Homo sapiens: one gene and its partners. The protein of the gene in region 1 purifies or fractionates together with the protein of each later gene. This does not show direct contact. Each region holds a gene or a part of one and is shown on either strand. Other genes may lie near its edges. The genes, in order: NCEH1, SCARB1, UGT8, ITPRIP, ITGA7, CANT1 and TMTC3.

Evidence for each region.
Region 2: the proteins of NCEH1 (region 1) and SCARB1 purify together in Homo sapiens (affinity purification with mass spectrometry; 2 studies listed by BioGRID and IntAct, with this or other methods). This does not show direct contact.
Region 3: the proteins of NCEH1 (region 1) and UGT8 purify together in Homo sapiens (affinity purification with mass spectrometry; 2 studies listed by BioGRID and IntAct, with this or other methods). This does not show direct contact.
Region 4: the proteins of NCEH1 (region 1) and ITPRIP purify together in Homo sapiens (affinity purification with mass spectrometry; 2 studies listed by BioGRID and IntAct, with this or other methods). This does not show direct contact.
Region 5: the proteins of NCEH1 (region 1) and ITGA7 purify together in Homo sapiens (affinity purification with mass spectrometry; 2 studies listed by BioGRID and IntAct, with this or other methods). This does not show direct contact.
Region 6: the proteins of NCEH1 (region 1) and CANT1 purify together in Homo sapiens (affinity purification with mass spectrometry; 2 studies listed by BioGRID and IntAct, with this or other methods). This does not show direct contact.
Region 7: the proteins of NCEH1 (region 1) and TMTC3 purify together in Homo sapiens (co-immunoprecipitation; 3 studies listed by BioGRID and IntAct, with this or other methods). This does not show direct contact.

The regions. Positions count from the first base shown.
Region 1 is NC_000003.12:172,648,568-172,652,067, forward strand, and holds part of NCEH1 (neutral cholesterol ester hydrolase 1), read right to left. Parts: intron 1-3,500.
Region 2 is NC_000012.12:124,811,865-124,815,364, forward strand, and holds part of SCARB1 (scavenger receptor class B member 1), read right to left. Parts: intron 3,251-3,500; coding exon 3,109-3,250; intron 2,542-3,108; coding exon 2,338-2,541; intron 102-2,337; coding exon 6-101; intron 1-5. UniProt on the Homo sapiens protein: Receptor for different ligands such as phospholipids, cholesterol ester, lipoproteins, phosphatidylserine and apoptotic cells. Receptor for HDL, mediating selective uptake of cholesteryl ether and HDL-dependent cholesterol efflux.
Region 3 is NC_000004.12:114,668,307-114,671,806, reverse strand, and holds part of UGT8 (2-hydroxyacylsphingosine 1-beta-galactosyltransferase precursor), read right to left. Parts: intron 1-3,500. UniProt on the Homo sapiens protein: Catalyzes the transfer of galactose to ceramide, a key enzymatic step in the biosynthesis of galactocerebrosides, which are abundant sphingolipids of the myelin membrane of the central nervous system and peripheral nervous system.
Region 4 is NC_000010.11:104,317,966-104,321,465, forward strand, and holds part of ITPRIP (inositol 1,4,5-trisphosphate receptor-interacting protein precursor), read right to left. Parts: intron 1-3,500. UniProt on the Homo sapiens protein: Enhances Ca(2+)-mediated inhibition of inositol 1,4,5-triphosphate receptor (ITPR) Ca(2+) release.
Region 5 is NC_000012.12:55,697,905-55,701,404, forward strand, and holds part of ITGA7 (integrin alpha-7 isoform 2 precursor), read right to left. Parts: coding exon of another isoform or gene 3,475-3,500; exon of another isoform or gene 3,446-3,474; coding exon of another isoform or gene 3,422-3,445; intron 3,251-3,421; coding exon 2,995-3,250; intron 2,983-2,994; exon of another isoform or gene 2,662-2,982; intron 2,490-2,661; coding exon of another isoform or gene 2,358-2,489; exon of another isoform or gene 2,123-2,357; coding exon of another isoform or gene 2,086-2,122; coding exon 1,966-2,085; intron 1,014-1,965; coding exon 806-1,013; intron 673-805; coding exon 479-672; intron 123-478; coding exon 34-122; intron 1-33. UniProt on the Homo sapiens protein: Integrin alpha-7/beta-1 is the primary laminin receptor on skeletal myoblasts and adult myofibers.
Region 6 is NC_000017.11:78,999,765-79,003,264, forward strand, and holds part of CANT1 (soluble calcium-activated nucleotidase 1), read right to left. Parts: intron 1-3,500.
Region 7 is NC_000012.12:88,190,807-88,194,306, reverse strand, and holds part of TMTC3 (protein O-mannosyl-transferase TMTC3), read right to left. Parts: intron 1,704-3,500; coding exon 1,477-1,703; intron 1-1,476. UniProt on the Homo sapiens protein: Transfers mannosyl residues to the hydroxyl group of serine or threonine residues.

The DNA of each region.
Region 1 (3,500 bases):
CATATATTTGGGTGTGTCTTATTGCTTAATTTCTTTAAATTGCTTTGTAACTTCAATATATTTAATTGTATCTTTAAATGTGTCTTGTCCTTTTGAAAGGAGCGTGTGAGAAAAAAGAAACATTGTCAAGGGAGGCCCTGGCATTTAGAAGCAGCTCAGCTCAGATATAACCAGAAGCTTTTTAGAAATGAGGCAAAGACCATACTGCCTGATGGTCTCTTCCCTTCTGAACCCTCAGGGTATCAAGCTCTGCATTAAGTGTTCGCAGAAAGTTATTTGGTTGCAGAAGGAACATAGCAAGGAGACCTAATTTACCCACCAAGCAAAGACACTTCTGAGTTTATATCCTTCTCTCCACTTTCGCAAGTTCATCAGGAAGGGGAACAGCTGGAGAGTAACAGTGCTCTTTTGTAGATGATGAAACAGAACACTGGTGATTAATGATCATAAGATCACGGAAACAATGTTGCTAGCAGAAATCAGGACTATATGATGTCTGCGATGTGGCACCTTACAGCTTCTCAGGCTGTGCACAGCGTACGACGGTACACCTTGAAGAGGGTCCGTGTGTGCTCATCGCCTCAGCCTCTGGGCAAATTCCTGAGCCCTTTACCCCAGTGTCCCATATAAACATTATAACTGTGTGTGTATATTTTATATATACATACATATATATATATACACACACACATATATATATGTCCTGTCCTGTCATGAAAAGAGTTAGAAAGCACTATATTATAACAGCATTAGCAAATGTTAATGAAAAACAAGAACAAGAGGCAGTTAATCAAACAATGAACAGCTATTTTAGGAATTCCTTTAATATTATTCGCTGGCAAGTATAAGCAGCAGCAGAGCAAATGAATATTAAGAAAATTCAACTTCTACATGTGCCCTGACATCAACTGCCCAATTTACTGAACAAGTTGAAACTGTTCATGTCTTTGATACTAATTTATGCATGTGTACATGCACATATGTGTTCACACATGTACTGCACAGAGGATTCTAACTATCAACTTAAGTTCTTTGGTAAATTGGAAGAAGGCAATTACCATTCGAGTTTTGTGGTAAAATGTTAGTCTAATTTAGAGAATATTGAGATCTGCCAGGGAATAGCTAAGAATCACTGTATTTCCAAAGTTTCTAGAGTAGATATAATAAACCCTTGTTAACACCATTATCAATTAATAGGGAACATGCAAGCTCCATTCCACTTGTCACAGGACAGGTAGTTTGACTGGCACGAAACGATGAAATATGAACAAAGAAATGGCAGACCTGGCTCTGTTATATTATGAACTGTACTTTTCTTTTTAATTAAATGAAGACTTTCTTAAACACTTGAGACAAATTACATGAGTTTCTTTAACTATATGAAGCTGTAAAACAAGTGAATTGTCTTTATATGACAGATATGAGAAGACTGTACATTTTATAAGAGAGCCCACCTCGAGTTTCCTTTATGTAATGCATGCTCTGAGTACATGCGGGTTTGACTCAATTTGTTCACACCTTTCCAGAAACATCTCTCCATGTTAGCTTATGTTTCGCTTGCATTCACAGAATACTTGAACAACCATCTGCATTGTTTACAATAGCAACACAGTGGTGTGGGGGTAGAAGTGCTGATTAGAAAAGGGACAATTTGGCTGAGTGCAGTGGCTCATGCCTATAATCTCAGCACTTTGGGAGGCCAAGGCAGGCAGATCATCTGAGGTCAGGAGCTAGAGACCAGCCTGGCCAACATGGTGAGACCCCATCTCTACTAAAAATATAAAAATTAGCTGGGACCGGGTGCGGTGGCTCACGCCTGTAATCCCAGCACTTTGGGAGGCCAAGATGGGCGGATCATGAGGTCAGGAGATCGAGACCATCCTGGCTAACATGGTGAAACCCTGTCTCTACTAAAAATACAAAAAAAAAAAATCAGCCGGGCATGGTGGCGGGCGCCTGTAGTCCCAGCTACTTGGGAGGCTGAGGCAGGAGAATGGCATGAACCCTGGAGGCAGAGCTTGCAGTGAGCTGAGACTACGCCACTGCACTCCAGCCTGGGCGACAGAGTGAGACTCCGTCTCAAAAAAAAAAAAAAATAGCCAGGCATGGTGGCACATGCCTGTAATCCCAGCTACTCAGGAGGCTGAGGTAAGCGAATCGCTTGAACCCGGGAGGCAGATGTTGCAGTCAGCCGAGACTGTGCCACTGCAATCCAGCCTGGATGACAGAGCGAGACTCTGCCTCGAAAAAAAAAAAAAAAAAAAAAAAAGGGACAATTTGTTTATGCAGGGTAAAAGACAGGAATATGAAAGGGTAGGTAGATGAGTAGAAAAAGAATTTAGAGAACTGCTACAAGAAAAACTGTGCTAATGTTCACAATTGTATTGATAAATTAGAGTTATACTAGAGCCAATATCAAGACTGTTTGAAAACTTGAAAATTGATATGAACAGTAACCTGTTGTTAATTACTTTTCTTGGTACTATTATAAATAATAGCTATCACTGCCTGAGTGCCTACAGTGAGTGCTAGGGTAGGTTGCTGAATTCTGGCTACTATTCTGTGAGGTAGGTACTATTATCTTGCTTACAGAGAGAAGAGAACAGAAGCTTAGACATTAAGGAGCCAGTACAGAAGCTGGATTTCTAAAACCTTGAGGGGCTGCAGGACTTACAGAATTGCCTAGAAATGCTGGTGTAAATCAGTGTGGGTCCTGGAAGCTGCTCTGAGCCCTATCCAGTATGCGATAACATTTGCATGTCTATATGATATCAATGACAAACTCATGAATATTACCTAACTTTTTTTTTACTCAAATATCTTTCCCTTAGCTCTTCACATTACTCTCCTCCTACCATACTGCCCAGAAAATAAATTCAGTAGCCACACCTTTCTATAGTTGTTACTTCTTTGAAGGGCTATGAGAAAAAAAAGCAAAGAAACGGGAGTTCCTTCCTTCCTTTGGATTTTTAAAAGCCTGTATCTTTTGGAGAATCTTTTTTTTTTTTTGAGGTAGAGTCTCGCTCTGTTACCCAGGCTGGAATGCAGTGGTGTGATCTCGGCTCACTGAAACCTCCGCCTCCCAGATTCAAGCTATTCTCGTGCCTTAGCCTCCCAAGTAGCTGAGATTACAGGCATGCACCACCACTCCTGGCTACATTTTGTAGTTTTAGTAGAGACAGGGTTTTGCCACATTGGCAAGGCTGTTTTCGAACTCCTGGCCTCAAGTGATCCACCCACCTCCGCCTCCCAAAATGCTGGGATTACAGGCATGAGCCACCGCGCCCGGCCGAGAATCTTTTAAAAAATAGGCATTGATTTAGAAGATTACATGACGAATAAGAAGTCTCCTAGAATAGAAAGTGATTTCCCAGGCTAGATGGTAGAAGAGGGGAAGAGAAAGTGTTGCAGAGGAAATGAGGGCTGTATAGATAAATATCTGGGAGCCAATGAAAAAAGAACCCTGGGGTACAAAAACTCCCAGATAGGTCTGTGGAATC
Region 2 (3,500 bases), on another chromosome or scaffold:
CTCACCTTGCTCAGCCCGTTCCACTTGTCCACGAGGTGGATCCTGCTGATGTTCTGGACCCCCGTGAACACCGTGAAGAGCCCAGAGTCGGAGTTGTTGAGCTACAGACACAGCAGGGAACAGCATCGTAAGGCTTAGGCCTGCCATTGAGCCGGCCTGGTCTGAACATTCTGGGCTGAGCCCTCCTCCCCCTCCACCAGAAGGACAGGGCCCCCAGCATCTGGTTCACTGCCAAATGCCCAGTGTCTGGGGACCGAGAGGAGGCTTGGGAGCTTTCTAGGAGGAATGGTCCCGGGTTCTGTGGCTGCAGTGTTCCACCCTCCCTTCCTAACTCCAGGAGAGTCTGGCTTTCCTCCCAGGTAAATGGCAGATCACCCCCACCACACCCTACTCCAGCATAAAATAAAGCATGGCCAGGTCAGCTCCCTGAGCAATGAAAAAGGAGAAGTGGCATGTCACTTGGGGGGATGCTTTAAGGACTGTGCACACGCCTTTCACCGGGCTCTCTGCCGCTGCTATAGCAGCCAAGGAGGTATGTGTCAAGACAGAGCCTCCCTCAGCCTGGATCCCCAAGTGACCACCACAAGCGCGGGTGCCCCAGTCACCCACACTGGACGTGGAGTGCAAGCAAAGGAATAAGTCTTGGTTGTTCTAAGCCATGGAGATTCCGGGGCTGCTTGTCACAGCAGCAAAACCTGGCCTGTCCTAACCCATCGAGGTTCTTGATAGTGGGGCCCAGGCTTTGGTGCTCCGAGAGCATTTCCCAGAAGCTGGTTTCTAATCCCAAAGACATGCAAAGCACAAAGTGGTATGAGTGACTGAAGGAAATATCTAGAAGTGCTTTGCAGGGTGGAGCACACTGAGGAGCTCCAAGGTTGCCCGGCTGAGTGACTGCACCCATCACAGACCTCCAGAGCAGGACCCAGCACAAGGCCCCAGCCCAGCATCCCGGGTGTGTCTGTCACGTGCCCATGTGGAGCCAAGAATAACCAGAGCCACTACAAAGGGGAGCATTAAAGGGACTCATGTGCAAAAACGGCCAGGTACAGTGCACCGGACACAGTAAGAGCTCAAAATGATAGTCTTTATTTTCATTATTATTGTTATTATTAATAAATGCTCACCCAATAGGATACTTAAATGATCATTATAATGGACGGAGAGCATCAGAAACTGCCAGTTACTACCCAAAGCCCAATCTCTCCTTACTCTTTCATACAAAACCCAAACCATACTCAGAGCATCAGCACACCCAGCTAAAAGGCTACCTTTCCAGCTTCCCCTGGAGCTAGGTGTGGCCATGTGACTCAGTTCTGGCCAATAGAAAGGAAGTGGACATTGGTTTTCTTCCTCCCTAAGAGGGAGGAAACTGGAACACGCTGTTTTACCCCCAGTTCCTCCATCTGCTCCCCAAAGCCCCACCATTTTTTCCTTCTTGCTGTGCTGCCTGGAATGTGATGTGATTGCTGACACTCTAGCAGCCAACTTGGACAATGAGGTTATCTTGAGGATGAAAACCACATGCCAAGGATGGCAGAGCACAGTAGTAGAAGGCTTCCAGATCACTTAAGACCATGAAGCCACCACACCAACACTGAACAGCCTACCGCTAGACTTTTCTTGTGAGGTTTTCATTATATGCAGTCAAACGTAGATTATACTAAACTAGGGACTTTGTAATAACTTTCATTTGCAAAGCACTTCAGGATTTACAAGATGCCTTTACAGCATCATGCCACTTAGCCCAAACTTGCTCATTTACCCACACGACAGGAGCCCGTCACCCTTGACAAAAACGTACTGAGTATCTATCACACGCAGCACCACGATATCCCCCCCAGCACTCTACCCTGATCAGCAGAGACCAAAGAGATGGCTGAGGCTGGAGCAGTCCCAAGGACTCAGTGAAACCTGCGGTGAGGGAGCCAAGGTCAGGGTCAGACCCTCCATGGACGAGATGTTGGCTCCGAAGCCCAGTCAGTGACCCTACCAGGTTGCCAAGAGTCAAGATTAAGAGTCAGCTTGTGATATTACTCCCCAGCAGCCATGCCCCCTTCCTCCAGCAAAGCCTCCAATTTGCTAAGCTAAGGCCCAGTCACATCATTTGAGCCTGGATCAAGCTGTACCTGAATCCAACCCTAGCATTTTCAGTTCTATGAGCCCCAACATTCCCCATTTCACTCAAGCCGGTTTGAGTCAGGTTCTCAGTCACTTACAACCCACAGCCACTAGATCCCCAGCCAGCTACAAAGCAAGCTGGTGACCAGTGTCCAGGCTGTGTGAGGGGAAGACAGGACACAGGCCTGAATCTTTGGCTTCTCACCAGGCCACACGTACCTCAGCAAATAATCCGAACTTGTCCTTGAAGGGGAACATGCCTGGAAAGTACTTGTTGATGAGATTCACAAGGGGGTCCTTGTAGCCCCACATGATCTCACCCACAGTGCGGTTCATGAAGGCACGTTCGCCGAGGGTGGTGAATGCCAAGGTCATGATGAGCTTCAGGGTCATGGGCTTATTCTCCATCATCACCGCCGCACCCTGCAAGGCGAAGGGACACTAGTGTCAGAGGCTGGACGTGGCTGGCCCATCCTCCCTTGGCCCCAGCTGGGCCTCACAGCAAAGAGCCCATGAAGGGAAATGCTGGGGTGCAGGAGGCCCCTGGAGTGGCCACGTGGGGCATCTGGGACACCAGAACCACCCTCTGCTCCTCCAGTGCCAAGGCCACATGTGCTCCCGAGAACCCCTTCTCCCCCTTGCACCCCACTGGACTCAGGCTAAGTGAACTCCAGCCCCAGTCCCAGAGGCGGGCCTGTGGCTCAGCCCTCAACAAGACAGCCCCTTTTGGAGATCTCAGAAATGTAAATTGAAAAGGGAAAAAAAAGTACTTTGGCCAGGACTTCCAAACCAAGACAGGTGGACCCACCTGGGAAACTCAGAACCCACTGGGGGTGGTGGAGACAGCACAGGGCCGAAAGCCACCCACCAGGCGTGAGTCCCCACGCTCCGACCACCTCAGGGACTGCTCTCTGCACAAGGGGCAGGCGGGAGGAGAGACAGGGGACGAGGTCAGGGTGCGAGGCGGCGTGGGCCACAGGGCAGCCTCACCAAGACCAGGATGTTGGGCATGACGATGTAGTCGCTCTCCGAGCCGTGGGACTTGGAGGGCTGGAACTGGAAGGTGCGGTACTCGAGGAAGGACACGGTGTCGTTGTTGTTGAAGGTGATGTTGCTTTTGTGCCTGAACTCCCTGTGGGGGAAGCCAGTGGGTCAGACGCCCCGCCCCGCTGCATGGGACGTTTCCCTTCTACTCGCCTGCAATGCCTGCCTGGGAACCAGGGGCCCTGGACGTCTGTGCACACCTCCGGCCCCACAGCCAAAGCTGAGCTCGGCCCCTTCGCCAAGTCTGTCCCTCCCGCCGCCTGCCCACTGCAGGACATGGTGTCGCCGCCCACCCGGCCTCGTTCTGCTCTCCCCCACCCAACACGGCCATCGTCTCT
Region 3 (3,500 bases), on another chromosome or scaffold:
TGTTGCAACTGCTTTTGGTGTTTTAGTCATGAAGTCTTTGCCCATGCCTATGTCCTGAATGGTATTGCTTAGGTTTTCTTCTAGGGTTTTTATGGTTTGGAGTTTTACATTTAAGTCTTTAATCCATCTTGAGTTAATTTTTGTATAAAGTGTAAGGAAGGGGTCCAGTTTCAGTTTTCTGCATATGGCTAGCCAGTTTTCTCAGCACCATTTACTGAATAGGAGATCCTTTCCCCATTGCTTGTTTTTGGCAGGTTTGTAGAAGATCAGATGGTTGTAGATGTGTGGTGTAATTTCTGAGGTCTCTGTTCTGCTCCATTGGTCTATATGTCTGTTTTGGTACCAGTACCATGCTATTTTAGTTACTGCAATCTTGTAGTATAGTTTGAAGTCAGGTAGCGTAATGCCTCCAGCTTTGTTTTTTTGTTTTTGGTTGGTTGTTTTTGCTTAGGATTGTCTTGGCTATAGGGGGTCTTCTTTGATTCCATATGAAATTTAAAATAGTATTCTCTAATTCTGTGAATAATGTAAATGGTAGTTTGATGGGAATAGCATTCAATCTATAAATTACTTTGGGCAGTATAGCCATTTTCACAATATTCATTTTTCCTATCCATGAGGATGGAATGTTTTCAATTTGTTTGTGTCCTCTCATTTCCTTGAGCAGTGGTTTGTAGTTCTCCTTGAAGAGGTCCTTCACATCCCGATAGCTGTATTCCTAGGTATTTTATTCTATTTGTAGTGATTGCTGAATGGGACTTCATTCACGATTTGGCTCTCTGCTTGCCTATTGTTGGTGTAAAAGAATGCTTGCGATTTTTGCACAGTGATTTTGTATCCTGAGACTTTGCTGAAGTTCCTTTCAGTTCAATTTTGGGGCTGAGACAATGCGGTTTTCTAAATATAAAACCATGTCATCTGCAAACAGAGACAATTTGACTTCCTCTCTTCCTATTTGAATACCCTTTATTTCTTTCTCTTGCCTGACTGCCCTGGCCAGAACTTGCAATACTATGTTGAATAGGAGTGGTGAGAGAGGGCATCCTTGTCTTGTGCTGGTTTCCAAAGGGAATGCTTCCAGCCTTTGCCCATTCAGTATGATACTGGCTGTAGGTTTGTCATAAATACCTCTTATTGTTTTGAGATATGTTCCATCAATACCTAGTTTATTAAGAGTTTTTTACATGAAGGGATACTGAATTTTATCAAAGGCTTTTCTGCATCTATTGAGATAATCATGTGTTTTTTTGTCTTTGGTTCTGTTTATGTGATAGATTACCTTATAGATTTACATATGTTGAACCAGCCTTGCATCCCAGGGATGAAACCAACTTGATCATAGTGGATAAGCTTTTTTTTTTTTTTTTTTTTTTTTTGAGACAGAGTCTTGCTCTGTCACCCAGGCTGGAGTGCAGTGGTGCAATCTCGGCTCACTGTAAGTTCCGCCTCCCAGGTTCACGCCATTCTCCTGCCTCAGCCTCCCCAGTAGCTGGGACTACAGGTGCCCATCACCATGCCCGGCTAATTTTTTGTATTTTTAGTAGAGATGGGGTTTCACCATGTTAGCCAGGATGGTCTCGATCTCCTGACCTTGTGATCCACCCGCCTCATGCTGCTGGATTCGGTTTGCCAGTATTTTATTGAAGATTTTCACATTGATGTTCATCAGCGATATTGGCCTGAAGTTTTCTTTTTTGTGTGTGTCTCTTCCCAGTTCTAGTATCAGGATAATGCTGGCTTCATAAAAGGAATACTTCTTTTACAGTATTAGTTACTTGGTTTAAACTAGAATATCTCGGACACAATATTAGTGAGGCAAACTAATATTTTCAATAATTATCACCTGTTAAATGTGGAATATTATCACATTGGAAACAAAGATAAGTGACTTCAGTTTATATAATGACTTTTAGCAAAGGACATGCTACACAAATCACTGGCATTTTTACATTGACTAAGACATCTTTCTATGCACAAAATCCTTTCAGTTAAATATTTAAGGTTTTCAAGTTACATGCAGTTAACTCATTATCTGATGTGCATACTTTTGGGAATGATATAAATTTATTCACTGCATTGAATAATCCTTAAATTAAGCACTTACATGTCTTCAATATTCTATAGCTGGAATTTAATTGCCATGTGACCTAAGATTGCAACCTGTTCTTGCTCTGATTCAGCCTGGTTCATGCCTCGCAAAACACAGCTGGACTAACTTCCTGTGAATAACCTAGATTTTTGCTCTTTCCTTTTCATCTGAGCCAATTTCAGCAGTTCTGCAACTGTTTCCCCATAATTCTACTTAGGGCTATATTTTACAAACTTTCCTGAAAGATTGAAGATAGATACATACATACACACACATATATGATACATGCATGATGTATATGTATGTGTGCATATATATATATATATATATATATATGTATATGAAATAACATCATGTTTTGAAAAGCACACCTTTAAAGAAAAACTATAGATAACAGAAGAAGGGATATACTTAGGCAACCCTAGTTATGGAACACATTGCTCCAATGGCAGAGCTGTATCCGACACTGGATCCTTTAAGAGTCCAGAGCATGAAGGTCACCCCTGAGCTCACATAAAGGCAGCATAATGAACTTCAGTTGAATTCAGCATTTTATATGCAAGCTGCATCCTTTTATATGAAATAATTTTTCTTATTATTGGTTGTTCCTTAGAATGTGGCAGTGTTTCTCAAGTGTTTCTCAGTGTTAAGCCATATCCCCTAGGCATAAAAAGAAAAAGCTTATACGCTTCTAATATTTAATGCTATTGGAAATGCAAGGTAAATTAAATATAATATCTACAAATGAAGAAAACTGCTGCTTTGTTTTAAAACTACACAGGCCAGTTCTTCACCCTTTGAGACTCATTGGTGAACTAGCTTAACTCAGGACCCATCAATAATTTAAAAAGCAAAATAAAGATTCTGCTTCATCATTCACCTGAGTAAATAAATCTCCGTATTTCTGCAATACTCAGTGCTAGGGAAACCCAGCAACACCAGGCTTACCATGCAGTACAAAGAACACTGTCTTGGGAATCAGACAGTCCTGGCTTCTAATTTCAACTACAATTGCTGTGTAAGCCAAATTACTCAAGTTCCATGAATATCAAGTGCCTTGCCTCTATAATGTGGATAATAAAAACTGTGATATACAGCTGTTATAAGTATGAAAATGAAATAAAGCACATAACATTTGACACAATGTAGATATCCAAAGATTGTTCCCATTGCAGTTTCTCCCTGTTTGGAAGATCCTTGCAGAATATTATCTGGTGTCATAACATGGCTGGTCAAATGACTGCTGTTTTCATTTTCTAAATAATAGAAAACATGCACAAAGCATTATCACAGGAATCTAAAGGATATTTCCATAATTTGATAATTTATTGACAATCTATTGAAAATAATTGGCTACTGACAATATACTGTGGTATGTAAGTTCATCAGCTTTAATGTTAATTGAAACCTT
Region 4 (3,500 bases), on another chromosome or scaffold:
GGGGAGTGGAGAAGGTCCGTCCTCCACCCTGAGGATTCTCAGTGTGGGCCTCAGAGGTGAGCACTGAAGCACTTACAGGTTTCCACTGGAGGAGGAAAGCGGGGACAGGATGAAGTGGAAGAAGTCACACTGCAAGGTGGGTGGGGTAAGGAAAAAGTGCAGGGGGCAGCGAGCCAGCTTTCCTTCCCCAAGCCAAGGAGCAGCTTGCTGGATAATGGCAGAAACAGGTCAGCCTGGTTTCTACATTAGAGAAACATCAACGGAAAGTTTTGCCAGGGAGGGTCCAAGGCATAACTAACTGCGAGGCTGGGTGATTAACATGGGTGAGAAAGTTAACATAAAGGTGGAGAGTACTCATAGCAGAATATCAGGCAGCAGCCAGTTAGGAGATAATTTGGGGGGTTTTAGGGTCCTTCAAGCTGCCTGGATCACAGGCAGCCACCTTTGGACACAGTGGGCCTTGACCAGTCACAGTAATAGCCCGGACAACCACCTACCCAGGTTCCTTGTCAACTCAGTGCAGGATGCCACGAACAGGTGAGTGGGGCCACGGCCAAGCCCTATGGCTGGGAACCATCCCTGTGTCTACGCCACACTTCATGGTGCTACTTGCTACATCCTCATTCCTGCCAGAGGAGGAGGAGCTGTAAGAGCCTCCTTGTACTGGCACAGGCAAGGTTCAGAACTCCAAACCAACTGAAGGGACCAACTCTGTGTGCAAGAGGAAAAGAGGATAGACTCGAGAGGAGACAAGACTGGGTCAGAACCCAGTATGTGCACCTACTGGAGGTGACTTCGGAGAAATCACTTCCCAGAACCTCAGTTTCTTCATCTGTAAAATGAGAATAATCATATCTACTGTTATAAAGCTTGAACAAGATAATGCATGTAAAGCACTCAGCAACATGCTTGCTCCTGAGCAAGTTTTCTTATGAAAGGAACTGCGATGGGATGGAAATACGCAGATGACCCTGCCTGCTGGGGTTCAGGGCGGAGTGCGCCGCAGACGCCCCTACAAGGAACTCTGGCAGGATGTAGGCAGTGCATAGTAGCACTGGTAATTGTAGGATTACAGACAAGACTCAACAGAAGCACCAGGGAAACAGGGCACCAGCCTGGGGAAGGACTGCAAGGAAAGGGGGCCTGGGCTGTAGACCCAGCAGACCTGTGTTCTAACCTTGAGTGACTGTGGGTGGATCGCACAGCTTCTGCGCTCCCACGCTTTCCCTGTGAGGAGGAATTAATAACACTTCCTCCTTCACAGGGATGTTGGGACGGGTGAGTGAGATCATACACCTTGGGTGCTTAGCACCGTGCCTGGCACAGGGCAGGCTCCTCTCCTCAGCATCTACAGGCTTCTGCTTTCTCACCTGCTGAGCACAGCAGCCCTGCCTGAGCCCCAGGCATGGGGAGTAAACACACGCTCGAAAGTGCTCTGAAAGCACAAGATGTTCCACTGCTATTTCTCCTCCTTGGCACACCCCTGAGTCCACCCTGGCCCCCAGCAAAGGGGAGAAGGCTTCAGAGCCTGGGATCCTCCTGCAGGTCAGGGGTTCCCTCTGACTCACTTTCTCACGTAATCCATCTCCCCGCTTCCCCGGATCGGATCCCAGCTGTCATTTGGCTCCCTGTTAAACTCTGCACAGGCTGGCTCTGTCTGCAGCACCCTATGGGATAGGACAGGCCGAGGCAGATAATAGGGCTGTGGTCGCTCAGGGCCCACCAGATGGGGTTCAGTTTGAAGCCTCTGGTACTTCCCCTTCCCAAACCCAGTCACAGGAAACACTGCCCTGGGGACCCCAGGGGTCAGAAGAATGTCCTGCAGGCCAAGAGGATTCCAAAATAAACCTTAAAAACCAGTTCATGCCATGATGGGAAGGAGGAGCCGACAAACCCCATTATACCCTCCTCCCTCTGGAATTCAGGCACAACTGAACAGCATTAACGTTAAAACAGAGATCCTAGGAGTGACAAAACAGACTCTGTAGCAATAAGATACCGAATTTCAACCCAATATAGCATCATATGAGATAGCAGGCCCTGAAAGAAATCAAAGTATTTTACCCCAAAATATATTTCTTTGACATATTTTGAAATGGCCCTGCAAAGCTGCCTATTGTCAGGAAAATCTACATTCTGTACAGAATCTCCTTCCCTTTCCAGGTCTCTCCTGATCCAGGAGAGATGAACTAAGAGTCTGATCTACATTCTGTACAGAATTTCCTTCCCTTTCCAGGCCTCTTCCTGATCCAGGAGAGATGAACTAAGGGTCTGGCACCTTTTTAGGTTTGACAGACACTTACCATCTCCTGTCTCTGAAACTCGCTTCCTGGGACTTCAGCTACATAGTAAGAACCATGGTCTCCATACCCCTTATCCTAGACACTCCTTTCTACTGATTCCAGGTCTTTAGATAATAACTTAACTCGTTCAACCAATTGCCAGTCAGAAAATCTTTGAATCCACCTATGACCAGGAAGCCACTCCTTGCCCTCACTTCAAGTTGTCCCATCTTTCCACACCAAACTAACATATTCCTTACACATGCATTGATGGAGGTCTGCCTGTAATTTTTTTTTTTTTTTTTTTTGAGACTAAGTCTCACTCTGTCGCCTGGGCTAGAGTGCAGTGGAGGGATCTCAGCTTACTGCAACCTCTGCCTCCCAGGTTCAAGCAATTCTCCTGCCTCAGCCTCCTGAGTAGCTGGGACTACAGGCATGCCCCACCATGCCCGGCTAATTTTTATATTTCTAGTAGAGACAGGTTTTCACCATGTTGGCCAGGCTGGTCTCGAACTCCTGACCTCAAGTGATCTGCCTGGGATCACAAGTGCTGGGATTACAGGTGTGAGCACCTGGCCTGCCTGTAACTTCTGTCCCCCTAAAATGTGTAACATCAAGCTGTAACCCAACTGTCTGGGGCACATATTTTCAGGATCTCTTGGGACTGTGCCTCAGGCCTTGGTCATTCAGATGGGTTCAGAATAAATCCCTTCAAATATTGTATAGAGTTGACTTGTCCACAAAAGGGAAGGAAACAGGGCATTCTGACATTCTGAGACAGGACGGGTAGTGAGGAGCCTCTCACAAACCATGGATATGTGTATATGTGTGCATGTTCTTGCACATACCAGCACATGCCTCCCCAAAGAGTCCCCTACTCCCAATTCCAAGGATGTCCACCTCTGCCTTGGCCCAAAGTTCTCACCTCTACCAGGCTCTCCCGCACCTGTGGTCTGAGACATCAGCTGGTGGGTTTGGCTTTGAGAATAAACCTGGGTCACTTGGCGGGCTTTTTTCTGTCTGCTTGCCAGGAAGCCTGCTGAATTCCTCTCCACCTCTGCCCTTGTCCACAGAGAGGGGCGGCCCATGCAGTTCACAGCTAAACTTAGCCTGGCAACGCTGGAGTCACGGGGCAACAGGGGCTGAGGGAAGATGGAAGCTTCTGGGTGGCCCGGACAGAGGGCTGCAGGTGGCTGGCTGGGACCAGTGGTTTATTCA
Region 5 (3,500 bases), on another chromosome or scaffold:
CACCCATTCCCTCATCCCAGCGACTCCCCTCACCTGTGAAGGTTTGGCGACAACCCCCAGGCTGCTCCCATGGTAGATGAAGACTTTCCCATCACCATCAAAGGGGGCACCCACTGCAATATCTGCAGGGCACAGGGAAAAGGCAGTCACGCTGGCTGGGGGCCTTGCAGACAAGATCCAGGCCTCAACTCCCCCCAGTCACTCAGGTATGTTTTCTATTTTATTGAGAGGCTACAAAATCCCAGGCACTCTACATACATCATCTTTAATCCTCTTGGCCACTCCCTGCAGATATTACTAACGCAAAAAGGTTAGGAACTTGCCAAGGTCAGAAAGCTGGTAAATGGTACAGCTCAGACATAAGCTCAGGGACCCTCTCTCCCTGAGTCCTCAGAAGACCACACCCTGACCTCTGAGGGGCTTCCCCATCCCTCCTGTGGCCCCTCCCTCCCTGAGCCTTTCCAGTTCCCCGTCACACCTGGAAAGCCATCTTGGTTGAGGTCCCCCAGGACAGCCAGGCTGATCCCGAACATGGAGTCAGGGGAGCCGCAGAGCCGGAGAGGGGAGATCCCAGCCCAGTGACCCCCCTGGTTCAAGTACACATACACAGCACCCCCCAGCTCTTCTTGGCGCTCAAAGAAGTAGGGGGCACCCACTATCAGGTCTGGCCAGCTATGGAGAGAGGGAAACATTCAGTGTGGGTCCTCCCTGGCCAGAGGAGCCAGCAGGAGGCTAAGTGGCCTCAGCCAGACTGGGGCTACTAGACCCAGCCTCCCTCAGGTGGCACGGCCCTCTACCCACTCACCCATCACTGTTGAGGTCAGCCACAGCCAGTGAGTAGCCAAAGCCGGAGGTCAGGCGCTCCCCAGACAGCATAACCTCGGGCACCAGGCGACTGGCGCTGTCCTTGCGCAGGATGACCACAGCACCCTTGTGGTTGGCGCGGGGGGCTCCAGCCACAAAGCTCAGCTCTTCTGCACGCACCAGACCTTTCCCCGAGTCAATAGAGAAGCCTGGGGGAAGGGTGACTTACCCCTAAGTCTTCACCCCAAGACTCAGAAGCTGGGGTGTGTCACAGCTCCCCCAGCCCCTGCCCCCTCCCTACAGGTTAAGAGCCAAGTCACAGCTCCCCTGCACCCTGCCCCCTCCCCTAGGTTAAGAGCCAAAAGATAGGTCCCCCCAAGTCATCAGCACCACAGCTGGATAGCTCTTCCTCCCCACAGGGCCTGGCAGCCTCCCACACCCACCAGGCCCAGAGACAAGCTTGGCACAAAAAGTGCAGTGAGGTCAGCCTCAGGGACTGGGCAAGAGAGAGAAAGGTGATGGCTGAGAAGGCCAGGAGCCCAGGTAGGAGGCTGAGCACAGTGGCCTCACCCTGCCCACACCCAGGGAGCTAGAAGAGCTAGAGGTCCCTCTCAGGCCCGAATCCCACCCAGTGCACCTCTTTCCCCCAACTCCCTCATCCTGGCAGGGAGGGGAAGTCTTCACATGGATGAGGGGGAGACAAGGGGGAGTGAGAGAGCGCCTGCTTCACCCAAACATCTCCCAGGCCTGGTTTCCTCCTCCTCTGCAGAGGAATGCAGATGAGACAACGAGAGGGACTTACCAACAACATTAGCCCTTTCTTCAATATGTGCCCACCATCCATCCCCTCAGGGAAAGTCCCCCTAGAAGACAGGACTGTCCTTCCCAAAATATCCTCAGCCCTGGCCCTCTCATTCCACCTGAATCTTCCTCCATGGAGACCCCTGGCTCACAGCCCCAGAGGCCACCACCCTGGGGGCCTCCTCCTCTTAGGCCTGATCATTGGACCCAGCTCTTCTCTGCAATTTGGGCCCAATGTATGTCTCCCTGGGTGTGTGTTGGGGGAGGAGGAGATTATAAGGCACCAAAGGTCGAGTTCCCTGGGGAAGGAGGGGAGGCTGGGCCATGCCCCTAGAGTCCAGGAGGTGGGAGCTTACAAACCTAAGTAGCTATTGAGGGCCAAGTCTCCGGCTGGTCCTGGGAGCCGGTCAGCAGGGTCCAAAGTTTTATACACCAGCTGGTCGGGGTCTGAGCTATCAATGTTGGTCACAAAAAGCAACCCTGTGGGGGGTGGGGTGAGACACCAGGGAGGGGACATCCAGAGTAGGGGCCACAGAGTAGGGAGACAGAGCCACAGAAAGGCCAGAAAATGGTGGAAGAAGAAGAGGTGGAGAGAGAAAAAGAGACCAGAGAGATCACAGCCAGAGACAGAAAGACAGAGAGAGACAAGGTGAGAGACAGAAACAGAGACAGAAGGATGGGAGCATGGAGAGAGAGGACAAGAGAGAGGAGCAGAGGGTTAGAGCAGTTCTGGGCCGGGGAGAGGTCCCTACCAAAGTAGCTGTTGGCAGGGACCGGGATGAGGCGGGGGTCCTGCTCCTTCTCTCCCCCCGCCTCGTAGGGACCGTCGTCCAGGTGTGCCAGGTCCGCTGAGCCCTGTGCACAGAGCTCCACCCTGGCCGTGCCTGCAAGGACAGACCTGTTAGTGCCCAGGGCAGGGCGCAAGGAACACCCCTCAGGCCGGACACTGAGTTAGACAGGCACACGGGGAAGCCCTGCCTCTTCTTTCTAGCCCTCTCCCCACCCTGTCCCCAACCCAGGCTTCCTGGGGTCCCCCAGATGTGGCATCACACTCACCGAGTGTCAGCTCAGCCAGCAGCAGCGTGCGGAGACGGGAATGGCAGTGATGAGGTGTGGGCTAGTGTGTTGGAGCATGCAGGCCCCAGCTGCAGGCCCAGCGTGCACTTGGGGCCCATGCCAGCATGTTGAGGAACACTTGGCCGTGCGAGGGAAAGGAGGCACCCCCCATTCATGTGTGCACTAGCTCAATGGGGTGGAAGGCATGGCAGTGCCCTGGGGCCATACAGCAGTGCACATGTGGTCATGCTTGGCCATGTGCCATCCCCAACCCTGTCTCTGAGGTAAGAGGAGGTTTTGGTCCCCTTCTCCCCTTCCCGAGGAGTGACTCACCCTTCCAATTATAGGTTCCTGGGGCCCCAAAGAGGAGGTAGTGGCTATCAGGGGAGAAGGCGGCAGCTGTGCCCTGCTGGCAGAACCCAAATTGTTCATGGCCTTGGGGGCGTCCCTCACAGAACTTCCATTCCCCACCATCCAACTCATCCCGGATGGCCAGGTCCTGGCTGAGCACAAAGCAGCGACCAATCATATCCCGCGTCTCCAGGATCTGGTCCACTCGCTGCCTTGCCTCATATCGGTGTGCACAGGTCTGGGGGAGGAAGGGATGGGGATCATTTCACTCTGTGGGCCAGGGACCTGCTTGAGGCATGCTGCCCATATGCAGAGATTTGGCAGATACTGATACATGTGTGCTCACATGCACATGCACATGCACACATACACACACACCCCTATGCCGGCACCACTCAAGCACCATTACCCTGCCAGTGTTACACAGGTCCATGCATAACCCAGCAACCTGTCTGCACCCACTTCCTTGCCCTCAAATGGAGATCTCC
Region 6 (3,500 bases), on another chromosome or scaffold:
TGCCTCAGATTCCCTAGTAGCTGGGATTACAGGCATGCACCACCACGCCCGTCTAATTTTGTATTTTTAGTAGAGATGCAGTTTCTCCATGTTGGTCAGGCTGGTCTTGAACTCCTGACCTCAGGTGATCCACCTGCCTTGGCCTCCCAAAGTGCCAGGATTACAGGTGTGAGCCAACACACCTGGGGCACAGCTAATTTTTAATTTTTTTTATAGAGATGAGGCCTCGTTATATTGTCCAGGCCAGTCTTGAACTCCTGGGCTCAAGTGATCCTCCTGCCTCAGCCTCCCAAAGTGCTGGGATCACAGGTGCGAGCACCCGCACCCCCCCTTACCTGCATTTCTGACATGCGTCTTAGACATTTCAAGACACGAGTCCTGTGCAGCTTTTCCCTCAAGCCTACTTGCTCCTCGTCTCCCCTTGGGAAGGGTAGTGGTGACGGGTGGCCACCGTGTCCACAGTGGTCTGGTTCAAGCTCTCTCAGGATCCTGGGAGATGTGCTTTTCTGTGTGAATATACACTTCGATAAAAACATAAGGCACTGCCACCACGAAAAACCTGACTGGCCTCATCCTCCGTCTTCCTTCCTCAGCATTGACTCCGTGGACAGGTTCTGTCCTCTTCCATGGCCCTTCCTCACCATGCCATGCCGGCTGCCTCCCTCCACCCCTCCTGCCTCTCCGCCCCTGACACTCCCATACCCCCCGCCATGAAGTTGCCCTGCCAGCTGCCCCCCACCAACATCCCCTGACACTCCCTCGCCACCTGCCATGAAGTAGCATCCATCAGATGGCACACTCCCAGCTTCAGCGGCTTCCTCAGGTCCTGGGGTGAACCCACTCTGCTCCCGCTCAGCCCTCACACTGTACCATCTCCTCTGCCTGCCGGCTGGCTACATAGACCTCCTTCTGTCCCCTGACCACACTGGCCCTGGCAGAGCCTGCAGTTCCCCCTGCCTGGAACAGTCGGGCCTGCTCTTCGCACCAGCAGCTCGGTCTCTCCTACGGGGCATCAGCTCCCTGGGAAGACTTGCCCACTCGCCCTCCCTCCCATGCCGCTCCGGCTCTCCCACCGTCCCTGCCTGGCTAGGTGATTATTTCTGCTCCTGGGGCAGGGATCTGGCCACTGTCACAGCCCCAGCACCTGACGCACTGCCAGGCAGGGAGCAGACAGTCTGCACGCATTGGCTGAAGGGAAAGAGATGCCAGGTGAGCCATTAGCCACTTCTTCAACAGCCCCTCTGCACTCTACCGGGGGCCCCACCTTAGGCATATTATGAACCCACAACCTGGATCAAGCACCCCAAAGATCGAGCTGCTCAGCTGCCACATCTGAGCTGCAGGCCCGGGAAGACGGTGCTTGCCAGCACAGAACAACGGTGCCTGCATAGACTGCTGTCAGACATCGTGAGGTGTCGTCGTCACCAGCCCCTGGAACCCCCATGTTCTTCCCTGTTCAACTCCCTCAGCACTCCGGAGAGCCACTGTCCTCACCTTCACCATTCCTGTCAAATCTCCGGCCCACTTCTCCCAGGAGACCACTCTGTGGCCAACTTCAGCAGCCGAGGCCCCTGGGTGGGGCTCACACCTGCCACTCAGGTCAGTCCCCCCAGCCGCCGGGCACCTGCTCTTCTGGTTCCTCCCTTCCATCCACAGGCTGCCCCAAGTCGCCCACCTTGTCACCATTTTACCTCCAGACCCCACACTCCCACAGACACTCAACTGCTGCTGAATAAATGGCGAATCTGTTAATGAAGGAAAACCCTTCCCTGAGTCCCCGGCACCTCTGTCCCTTCCCACCCCCGCCCAGGCCCCCTCGCCCACCATGGTACAAGAGCACCCACACCTACACCCTCTCCTTCCCTCTGGCTAATCCTCAGAAGCAGCCACCTGAAGCCTTCACCAGTGGCAAACCCAGTGAGCACATTGTCAGTGTCCCTCCTCGAGGCAGGGGGGCACTCTCTGTGGGCCTCCTCCCAGGCAGGTCTTCTCGGCCCCCACTGCTGGCAGCCCACTGACCTCTCCCAGGGCCTGCCCTCTAAGGTGAAGACCCCCACGCCTTTCTAGCCTGACCTAGTCTCTGAGCCTCCTCATCCGATACCCACAGGCACCGCAAACCAGGTCCTCCTCAGGAACTCCCTGTCCTGGCAGTGCCGGCCCTCAGGAGCCATCCCAGGAAGCAATTCGTCCTAACCCTCCTCCCTCCCCAGCCCCACGTGTCCCACCCAGCTTGAGACTCGCTTCCCTTCTCCCCATCCACACAGCCTCGGCTCCAGTTCCATCTCACCCTGATGACTCTCAGAGTCTTGGTCTAATGATCTAGACCAAGCTTGTCCAACATGTGGTCCAACACAAATTCGTAAACTTTCTTAAAACATGATGAGATGAGATTTTTTGTTAAGCTCATCAGCTATCAATGGATTTTATGTGTGGCCCAAGACAATTCTTCTTCCAATGTGGCCCAGGGAAGCCAAAAGATTGGACACCCCTGATATAGACCATCTGGGCTCAGCCAAGGGACTTCCCTTGGCCTCAGTTTACTTCCCGGAGCCATGCTGATGGGGTTAGAGAACTGTGCACAGGGGCTGACTGCTACTGCTTCTCACTCACTCTACAAGTACCCTCTCGCCTGCTGGGAGGGTTGCAAACTACCACCCGTGGGCCAAATGCAGTCTCCCGCCTAGTGTGTAGATGCGGCCTGTGTGGCCTGGTATGTGGTTGCAGCTTGGTGTGTAGACTCTGCCTGGTGTGTAGACGCGGCCTGCGTAGACGCGGCCTGCTGTGTAGTCACGTCCTGGTGTGTAGATGTGGCTGATTAAAGCCAGCTAGGACTCCTCCCTGGCATGCTGAGTCTGGCTGCACCGTTGAGTGGTCGCAACAGACTGTGGAGGCTGAAAATACTGACTCCCTGTCCCTCGACAGATCCCTGGTCAAGACCATCTCAAATCACCCTCCACAAAACTGACAGAATAATTTTTCCAAAAAGCAAGTCTGGATTCCAAGTCTAGTAGATCCCAATGCCTTCCATCTGAAGGACAAACGTCTCAGCCTGCAGAGAAAGCCTCAGTGGGTTTTTCCCCCTGCACTCCCAGGAGCAGGACCTCTCCCAGGTCGCTGTGCAACACTGCACGCCTTCCTATTCCAGACTCCTGGCATCTACACCGTGGCACACGCTCCCCACCCGGGAGGCTCATGTCCTCTGACCACATGGAACCAGAGGTGTCTGAGTCCCGGCGTCTCTGCCCCTCTGGGGAATCAGTGTGACGGAGGCAGGGGCCTTTCCTCCAGGAGCTCAGCACAGTTGGGGAGACAGACTTTGAACAGTCCCGTGTGGTCAGTGTTACCTCGAGGTCACGCTGATTCCCCAGAGCTAACAGAGGGGCAGAGACGCCAGGGCCTCAGCCACCTTTGGTTAAACAAGGGACTGCTTCTAGTGACAAGAGAACTCTGTGTACCTTCCAGAAAATTCCTTTAACTTCAGCACCAGAACACCTTCCCTT
Region 7 (3,500 bases), on another chromosome or scaffold:
TTAGGAATGTTTCGAGGACAAAAACATACCATTAAATATAGGGCTATAAAATTAGGATTTAGGAAACATGTATCTTCTTTTTTTTGAGACAGGGTCTCACTATGTCACTCAGGCTGGAGGGCAGTGCTGTGTCCACAGGTCACTGTAACCTCAAACTCCTGGGCTCAAGCAATCCTCCCACCTTGGCTTCCCGAGTAGCTGGGACTACAGGCATGTGCCATCATTTCTTGCTGATTTTAAAATTTTTTGTGGAGACAGAGTTTTACTATGTTGCCTAGGCTATTCTCAAACTCTTGGCCTCTAGTGATCCTCCCCACCCTGGCCTCCCTAAGTGTTAGGATTACAGGCATCAGCCACTGCCTGGCAGGAAACAAATCTCCATTGAGATAATTTCTATTGCAAAAAAAAAGCCAAAAAAACAAAAAAGTTCAAGTTCTACAATTACAAACCTTATAGTACAATCTTGTGTCGAATAATGAGCATCCTTCATGATTATCAAGGTAGAAAACCTTACAAAAATATTAGCTTTTCTCCAAATTTCTACTTTTTTGGACACCAGGCATAAAGACTTCTCTCTATTCTTTTATTTGGCAGCACGATGGATAAAGAAAATTTGAAAATAAATCAGGAGGCTTCAGTTCTTGTCTTGGGTTACCTATTTAGCCATATGACTTTGGGGCAGTCATAAAATCTATTTGGTTTTCACTCTACTAAATAGAAGACTGGCAAATGCAAACTCAAAGGTCCTCTTTAGCTCTAAAATACTACGACTTTATGATTCTTTCATATTTTACAAAAGTTTTACGAAATGTATCTAAGAAATAACTAAACATTATAATAGATTTTTCTAATTTATAAATTAAAAAGATTATAAATCATATACACTATCTTATGAGGCAGAACTGAAATTCCTATATAAAATATGGATGAAGGATCCAGATTTACTGTGGTTAATAATTTAGTTTTGCTAAATTATAGGAAATATAAAAAATTACAACATCTCAGAAAACGTAGTAAAACTGGATATAAAATGGTGCCAAAAGTATTTGCTCTTATGAATCAAAAGAAAATAAAATGCTATTTTTTTGAAAACATATGCTCTTGGCTCCTCACAGCCAATTATGTAAAAAATTTCACAAGTTCATATTATTTGGAGAGTTTATATATAAGTTACATTATGTTTATGTATATAAAATGACAAAATAGTTAATGTTGCTTAATAGACTGCCTGAAAAATTAGTCTTAACACATGCCAGAAGAATTAAAAATCAGTATTATCATATGTTAGAATGCATGTTACTTGAAAATAGTTTACTTCAAGTATTTTAAATATTCTTTCTATAAATCAGTTAAGCACAGTATTGCTATAAACTGTCAATACATAAAGTGTTTGCTATGGGTAATAAAGTTAAATTAAGGTCTTATTATATTATAAACTACAATTTATATAAACAGAAATATTTTGAGAAAACATACCTGATTCTTGCATTACTATAGCAGAGTTGAATAATGCTAGTTTATGCTTTGGATTTAGTTCCAGAGCACGATTAAAGTTTTTTAGGGCTTCATTTGGTTCTTTAAGTTCAATATGTACAATTGCCAAGTTGTACCAAAGATCTGCATTATTTCTGTCCAGCTCTAGTGCTTTAAGATATGCTTCCTTTGCTTTAAGAGGTTTATTCATTTTTAAAAGCAATTCTCCTCTGTGGAAAAATCAAACACAAGCTTTACTTACAACATTACCATCTCAGTTTGTAGATACAATTTTTGCCAAGTTTTAAGCCTTTCCACATACAGCTTTTTTTTCTCTTAACTCAGACTCTTAAAAAACTCTCTTTCGAAAACAACTCTTTGAAACTGTCCTCAAATCTGAACTCCTTAGTTCAGTATATTTGGCTTGATATATTTTCAAATATTATTTAAGAAGAAAAAAATTATGCCTGATTTCAGAGGGCAACCTATCAGGAGGAATCCAGGAAGGAGGACAGAGCAAATATATTCTTTGACTTTATCTTAAAAAGGAGACAGACTAAACTGCATCAGAAAAAGGGCAGCTAGCCAGAGTGAAAGATTAATGAATTTGTCAGGTGACAAAATAACAGCATTAGAAGAAAAAAATGACATATAGTAGTGGTAAGAGAAATTCCAATATTTGAATGTATAATAGAAGGCTCACTATGCAAAAAACCAAAATATTAAAAATCTGTAACCCCTTCTTATATTAATTTAGTCCTCATCAATGTCTTCTTATAATACGACCATTCTTAAAAAAAAAAAAGAAAAAAAAAAAAAGAAAAATGCTGGGCATGGTGGCTCGTTCCTGTAATCCCAGCACTTTGGGAGGCTGAGGTGGGCAGATCACTTGAGGTCAGGAGTTGGAGACCAGCTGACCAACATGGCAAAACTCTGTCTCTACTAAAAATACAGAAATTTGCCAGGCATGGTGGCACGCGCCTGTAGTCCCAGCTAATAGTGAGGCTGAGGAACAAGAATTACTTGAACCCAGGAGGCAGAGGTAGCAGTTAGCCGAGATCACACCACTGCACTCCAGCCTGGGTAACAATGTGAGACTCTGTCACAAACAAACAAACAAACAGAAAAAGGACTAAAAAAAAGCTGAACAGGTAGAGTGGGAGGGATTAATCTGACCTGTAGATAACTTTGAGGAACACACTTAGAATTGAGGACCAGTTAAGAAACCATTGTATAAATCTTTCTAGTGTGGTTCTATTTTCTGTTAGAAAATTTTAAAAAGTAATTTTGCTTAAAGAATTATTTTTACATATGTACAAATAATATTTAAGTAGTGATATGAGAGTTGTTCTTATAATACTACTCTTTCCTATAGTATCAGCACAGAAATAAAAGGAACAACAATTAATATTCTCATTAAAACCACTTCTAGAATGAATGTTTGTCCAAAATATTATTTTTTTAATGTAGAGATTGTTGAATAGTTCTTTATGAATTAATACATGACAGGTGTTATTTATAGATACAACCCTGCTAATAAACTCAATAGGCACGGCGGAACAAAGAAAACCCCAACTTACAAACAGATTTTATCTCAAAAACTTAAATTCAGAATGTACTTTCCCCAAAGGAAAAAATGTTACAAATTACTATTAGTTTTCTGGACCAGGCTACAAAACGAAGTTTAAAAACACATTTTTCCTCAAAAGTAATACAAATGATAACACATACATGAGAAAATAAATGAAGTTTTAACATGTGGTGCCAGAAAACTTTTTTTTTTGCTGAGAACCAAGATGTTTTCTTTGTGTCAAAGGCATCAATAACCAATCAACTCTAAAAACAAGAAAGTTCCTGAGAGTTTGATATTAGAAGTAACTATTATAAAATGTAAGTTTCAAGTTTTAATTTAAATAGGAAAAGAACAATTTTGGTGATGGGAAGAAAATGCAACTAAGACAGAGCTGCTTCTACCCTTTCCTTAATACAAAACCTAAGTTGGCTATTACAAGTTAGGGATTCCCCTT